Linked DNA regions of Homo sapiens: region 2 is reported to be linked to region 1. The links are microRNA targets in miRTarBase. Many come from high-throughput screens and were not tested one by one. Region 1 holds a microRNA gene; the other region holds the end of a gene's coding sequence.

Region 1 (3,397 bases):
GAATTAATCGAGGTAGGCAATTTATCTCGTTATTTTTTTTTGTTCAAAGACAGGAAAATAAAGATCAGAAATAAGCAAAGTTTCATTTTGAAGATAGAAAGAACCAAACAAACATGTCTTGACTTTTGCAGTATTTCCCTTGCTAAAGGGGGAATGAGGGAACTGTAAAAGACGTGACTTTGCAAAGTCAAGTCCTTTTTAAAAGACTCGGATCGAAATTCTTGCTATGCAACAAGGATTCAAGTTTGATTAATTTTCTGCAAGCGACGTGACAGCGGTGTTTTAAAAGATTAATTAAAATTGAAGTGATACGGAGCAGGAATTCAACCTGCAGAGGCGTCCCTGGCGCCTTGGGGGGCTTTGTAAGCGAGTCCCAAGCCCGAACTGCGGGCTTTCCCGAGCCTGGGACGCAACTCCCCGTCTCCTGGAGAGGAACGCGGAATTTGGCAGGGCGCCCGCCTGGCCGCCTGGCATCCTGAGCTGGCCGCCAGCTCTCGGGGGGTGGGGACTGGGTGTGTCCTGGGGAACCCGCTGCCGAGAGAGCAGCTAGCGCAGCTCGCGACGAGCCATTGAGGACCAGGGTCGCGCCGAGAGGCCGGAGGGGGCTCCAGGCAGCCTGGAGCTGACGGCGCCGGGCTGCGTCCTCTTCACCTGGGGGTGGGGGGTGGGGGCACGTACTTTGTGACCAGGATGGTGCCGAGCCCCCTCTACGGCGGGAGCTTGCAGGGGTGCGGGGGTGTGACTGGCGCTCCGCGGACTCGTGTCCACAGTACAGAGGACATGTAGGGTTCGGCCGGGGCGCGGCTGCACCGGGGCCTGCCTCGCGGACCTGGACTCGGGACTCCGGGCGGCCCTGCCTGGTGCCATTGCCTCAGCCAAGTCTCCCACCTCTCTGCTCGGTTTCCCGCCCCACCTTTCCCCTACTACCGCATCCCTGTCCCCTCGCTTCCCTCCGCGATGTCTCCATCCGAGTAAGAAACGAAGCTGAACGCATTGGTAACTGTGCTCAAGAAGATGCAATCGCGGGAGCCCTCAGGGTGGCGCACGGCGGAGAGGCGACGCGGGTGGCGCTGCAGAGGGTACGGTGGGGGGCGGGGAAGAGGGGGGCGTTCGTGTGCAATTAGCCTCCCCAGGGCGCGGACCACGGTGTCCCCTTCTCTCCAGCTGGGGGTCTCGGGTCCTGGCGCTGAGAGGCCGCACCTTGCCTTGCTGCCCGGGCCGTGCACCCGTGGGCCCCAGGGCGACGCGGCGGGGGCGGCCCTAGCGACCTGCGGCGGCGCCGGGAAAGCCCTGCCTCTGCAGCGGGTCCCAGGGGTCGGGGCCTGGAAGGGTCCCTGGGAATGCTCCGCGCCGAGAAGGCTCTGTGGTTTCTCCTCCCCCACACGTCTCCCTCTCCTCCCCTCTTCCCGGGGACCTCAGAGGTGGCGGGGAAGTGGGAAGGGAGGCGGGCTTGCAGACCGTGCAGGCTGGGGAGCCGGAGCTCGGGAGTTGGGGGAGTCCGAGTGAGAACGGAAGCGCGTGGACGCGATGGAAGGGGCCGGGGGAAAGGGGGACGGCACTGGGGAGGGCTGGGGTGCGGGGCAGGCGACAGTCCCTTCCCCTCCGAGCGGCGCGGGGGACCTCTTCCCCGGGGAACCCCCACCCAGCCGTTCCCAACCTCGAGAACAAAGGGTCTGGGAAGCACGGTCGGGGTCGGGGAGCGGAGGTGGAGGGAGGCAGGAAGGCAGGCGGTGGGGGCAGGGGAGGGCGCCTCCCCACGTTTCCTCTCGCGGCCGAATGATGGAAAGCTCCCTCCAGCAAACGCCTCACTGAGGCCGCTTCTGAATCCGGGAGGGTTCGGGTTCGTTACCTAACGGCTGCACTTCGCTCCCTTCCTCCCCCAGCGTCCCCACCCCCTCCGGGGACCGGGGCCCCGGAGCTGCCAGGCCCGCTGCACGCGGCGGCGCGGGAGAAACCACGGGGCAGCAGCGCCCCCTGCAGGTGCCGGGCGCCTCCGCAGCCGCTGCGCGGACCCGACTCTTAAGGTGGCACCACCGGGTTCCCAGCCCGCGCGCAACCCGCAGCCCTGGCTCCATCCGCCGCACTTCTCCCTGTAGCGGCGGGCCTGACCGTCCGGAACGGCCGGAGTGTGCTGATGCCTGCTGCTATCTGCTTGATCCCTTCACCCTACCTCTCATCCAGGACTTCTTCCGCGGATGCGCAGCTAGCGATTTCGACAGGCGAGATTGAAAATTCCGGGCGAGTATATGAGGTTGAGTAAGTCCCGCTTCAGGGAGGAACGACCAGAATGACATTTCTTTAAGCCTAAATCAAACTTTTATTTTCGTTTATAAAAAGCAGAAGGCCAGCAGGAAAGGGTCGCGGAGGACTGGCACATCCACAACCGTAGGACTCTTGGATCCAAGTTTTTAGGCTGAGACTGGGCGGTCCGGGGTTCTCCTTCGGCGCTCACACCCCGCAAACTCGTGGGCAGTGCAGTGCTGGAGGCCGGGGGCAGTGGCGGACCCGCAGGGTAACCTTGTCTCGCGCACCTCCCGAGCCCCCAGCAGCCCACTCTCGTCCGAATGCTTTGTTTATTTGGTGACACCAGGGAACGTGGAGAAGAAGATCGAAGTTCAGTTTTTCTTTTTTCTTTATTTTAAATATTTTTCTTAACTAAATGGTATGTTTATGTGAACCCATCATCTCTTGGAATTAAGTGTCCTCAGCGAACTCCAGATTCCTAGGGGAAACCTACGTGCCCAGAGCAGGAAACGCACAAGTCAATTCAGGTTCCGGTGCCATCCGCAGTAAATTCCCTTCCTTTTGCTCCAAATTCCTCCTCTGCGTCCAGGAGAGGGACCCCCGGGACTCCCGCACACCCAGGACCGGGAGCGGCAGAGCAGAGGGCGGGTGCGAGGGCGCGAGGGAAGGGAGGCGGCCTGCGGACCTGGGGCGCGCAGTTTCCCGGCTCCGTGGGAACCTCCAACCCCGGGGCGCGCGGCCTAGGCTCCGCCCTGCCAGGCTTGGGGCCGAGCGGCCCACCTAGTGGGTCCTGACCTGGGGAAGCCGAGTCCGCGCGCGGGTCGGGCCGCGACGAGGGAAGCTCGCCTGGGCAAGTGCCGCGCGGGGTCAGACCCACCCCAGGGGTTGCAAACCGCAAGCGAAAGTCGAGAGGGGCTGGAGCTTTCCCTCTGATCCGTTTTACACTGTGAAAACCGCAGGCCTGTCGCCTAGGCGGCCACTTTTAAATTGGGAAGCAAATAGACGAAAAACCAAAACAAACGTACGAGCTGACTTTTCCCAGCTAAGTTTCCCCTCAATAAAAAGCCCGCTTTCTGGGAAAGACAGAAACTGATCCGCGCTCACGATTGCTTTCTTGGAGATTCTGGGGGCACTGGGGCGCGCAGGAGGCGCG
Region 2 (3,397 bases), not on the chromosome of region 1:
CATTTTTCAAAACAGATTGAAATGTATGCTTAAGATCTGTGTGTTTTCCTGTAGGCAGATTATACCTCAATTTTAAAAATCTAAAAAAAATAAAGAGTATAGGTTTTTGCAAGGCACAGTGTCTTCTTAGTGTCCTCTCATGGGTAGTGAATAAGGCAGATAATTTAATAAGTACAATCTGAAGTGGTGGCATAACCATCAATGACTTTTGCAAAGCAGCATTATGAAAATTGTTATTATTTATATGCTGATCCCTGGAAACTAGAGTGTGAGCATGGGCCTGAAAAGGGAAGCCACATCAACTCAGGGTTACAGTTTTCAACGAATACTTTGAAGAATTGAGTTAATCGTCCCCATCAGCCAAAGCTCGTTGTCAATGTGGCATACATTTATTAACAGTGATTTATATGCTCTTTAAAGATACCATGTGCCAGCAATTACAGTTCAGACATCTAAAGCTCTTTGATAGTCAAATAAGATATTTCTGGGCCTATGTGAGGGGTGAGAGACATTTAAATGGCTGTATTAAAAATGTATTCCTTGCTAAGCCTGTGAAGATGTCTTATCTTTAATCTAACAAATGGCTTCTCTTTGTCTTCAGCAGGGGCACAAGATGAAGCGAAGGAACAAAGAAATGGAACTAAATGACAATCCTCAGCATCGCAAGGCCTCTCCTGGCTCTGGGGGAGCTCGGGAAGATAGCAGCACACGCTGTGGAGGAGGGTGGGGGTGGGGGGAAGGCAAGTCCCATGGAAGGACGGGGAATCCTTTACTCTAATTTCTCCAGCTGCATTTTGTTCCGTTTATCTGCAGAAAAAGAAAGAAAAAAAAGAAAAAAAAAGTTTCCTTTAATTTGGTGGAGGGACCCATGTTGACGCATCTTTCAGGCATTATCCTTGTAATTTCTGTCTTTTCTCTTACAACTTTGCCCCAGGGTCACAGTGGCTTGATTGAACACTCACATGTGTATCCTGGCCCCTGTCTGCTTTCTTGGTTATTTCACAAAGCTGGTCACACAGTGGTTTATTCAAAGGAAGGGGAGGAAGACAGTGGTTTGATAAGCTGCAGGATAAATTTTAGGAATCAATGAGCCCAGCAGCAGTATAATCCCCAGACAGAGGAGGCAGGATAGAAAATGGGCAAAAGCCTCGGAAACCACTTGGAAAAGGTCTGGACAATGAGGTGAAAATATTTTCTTCAGGGTTCCCAAGGCACAATTTGTTCCAAGTGGCTAATGAGAAATATGGAAGCTGAATTTTTTCCAGAGCAGAGTGCAGAGGCATAACAGAAGGGTGGGCCCTGGCAGCCATCTGGGTCTCTTCCTTCCTAACCATGGTGGCAGGTGCATCCTTCTTTGACACTGACTTTCAGCAGAGCTTACTTGGTTCATGAGGTCTTCACATGGAGACTACCAGCAAGAGGTGACTCTCTGCTGCATAACTGTAAAGGATGGCCCTTTGCTAGGTGTTACAGTTAAAAGCTAAGAAAAGGGGCAGTGCATTTAGGACCCAAACATATGCCTATGAATATCAAAAGCTCCTCCTGAAATTGCTGTGAGTTTTCCATAAAAGAATATCCTGTCTTCACCCAAGGCTTGACAGCCCACAGAGTGGTCTCATTTGAAATTACAGGAAATTAGAGCTTTTGCTTGCAGTTCTGCCTTCCTGGCCTGTGTTTAAATGCTGTCACTTGTTTATGCCAAGTTCAAGGCTGATTCAATGGTTGGTCCCCTCACCCAGAAAACCCTGAAGGGGAGGATACAGCTCTGAAGGGGGGCAGCAGTACTAAAAACCCAAGATGCCAGTGGTATAGTGGGCACAAGGGATGGCGACCATGAGGATGCCAGGCATCATCACCAATATCTATCCTAGAGCCAGTATAAGGCCAGATGCCTACTTCCCACAGCCTCCCCGGGTTCCAAAGTCATGTCATTGTTTTCAGTGGAAACATATCGTTTGTTGCATATCTTCTTAAATCCATCTTCCTTGTAAGGGCTTTAGAACTAAAACTTACTTATATTGTTTTTCCTTAACAGAGGGAGAAAAATAGTGGATTATTATTTCTAAAATAAAAGGATGTTCTGCTTTCTAAATATCCCATCAAAATCTTCAGTTTTGCACTTTTTTGATGGAAAATTCATCTTATCTTCCTATGACTTTGGTTTTAGCCTTTCTGAATTTGTTACCCCTTCTGGATGGCTTATTTGATATACTGGAATAGTTAACAAGCTATACTTCAGCATATGCACTATATTCTAACAAATTTTTTTTAATAAAATCAAGACATCAGCAAGAATGACATTTACGTGACCTCATAATGTGGGATTATGGCCTTCTGTTGCTATTCCAGTTTGATATGGAAGCATCTATATCCTCTATTGCCGTTAGATGTTGTTGCTTTTCAGAAAAGTAACGAAAAGGCTCATTTTAAAGAATCCAAGAAACGATGTCATCCAAATATTGACAGTTTCTACATTTCATGCCATCTTTATAACTCAATTGAAAGTTGCCGTCATTCTTGTGAAGTATTTGACAAGTGCAATCTGCTAGAAGCTCGTTTTTCTTGTGACTCCCAAATGTTAGTGCTACTTAGCCTCAGTAATGAGTTACAGTTGAAAAAAACATGAGGGAAACAGAGGGACAGAGATTTTCTAATGAACAATGATGGAAGAGACCTAATGTCCTTGCTAGAAACAGCCAGGATGGAAATTATCCAGCCCTGGCATTCTCCTTATCATCAATGACAGTCATTTTATTCATTTATTTCAAATGTGGGTGGGCTAGAAGTGGAAGGAGGGAATTCTCTCTGCCTAAAAATTCTAGAAGAATGAAAGTAATCTTTGTATCCAGGAAACTAAGAGAATGAGGAATAAATATCTTCAGCCCGACTCCTGAATTTGTTTATTCTTCCATCTATAATTAGATTGTGTTTTCATTTTTGCTTTGTCATGCTTTTTGGTTGTTATTTGGCTATACAGTTTTATGCTTTAAAACAAATGATAAAGTTAATTTCCAATTCAATAGTGAAATATTAACAATCTAACTATAGCCAGATCAAAGACACCTGAACACAGAAAACCTTTATTTGCTGGTGCTGCCATTGCACAGGCTGTACAATGAAATAGATTTGAAAAGCTGATTGATTTTCCCGCACATAAATTCTGGATGTCAATTTCCAACCAAACTCCAATACAGCTATGTGGCATGAAGAGTTACAGGAGGGAGGGAGGAAAATAGCCCTATGTTAGTCATGTTTGCATACAGAGGATCAAAGTAGGCCTTCACCATAATAGTTCTAATTAAAATGGTCCTCGCTGTAGGAGAGACAAAGGGGCTTTTCCTCTAGCTGGTAACTATTCAGATGATGGACAAGTCTTCTTTCATAAAAGATTACAAAG

What was found. The annotated mature microRNA hsa-miR-1915-5p reads ACCUUGCCUUGCUGCCCGGGCC and lies in region 1 at 1,199-1,220, shown strand. An mRNA with a match to its seed (bases 2 to 7 or 8) in the 3' UTR can be bound and repressed. Matches are read on the target gene's strand: a 7mer-m8 pairs with bases 2 to 8, a 7mer-A1 pairs with bases 2 to 7 and ends in A, and an 8mer does both.
Region 2: the mRNA of MACROD2 is a reported target of hsa-miR-1915-5p. The part of its 3' UTR that is shown has no 7-base or 8-base seed match.

What each region holds. Positions count from the first base shown.
Region 1 is chr10:21,494,432-21,497,828 of GRCh38, reverse strand. It overlaps MIR1915 (microRNA 1915), which reads left to right and starts at 1,188; the gene lies at 1,188-1,267. MIR1915HG (MIR1915 host gene) reads left to right here and starts at 569. Exons shown (of 2, transcript NR_160800.1): 1 at 569-1,079; 2 at 1,884-3,397. RefSeq lists silencers at 1,089-1,338, 1,549-1,598, 1,649-2,088, 2,902-3,001 and an enhancer at 2,513-3,306.
Region 2 is chr20:16,049,229-16,052,625 of GRCh38, forward strand. It overlaps MACROD2 (mono-ADP ribosylhydrolase 2), which reads left to right. Exons shown (of 18, transcript NM_001351661.2): 18 at 602-3,397. The coding sequence ends at 648. Among named protein-coding and RNA genes, the nearest start is that of KIF16B, 520 kb to the right of the region's middle.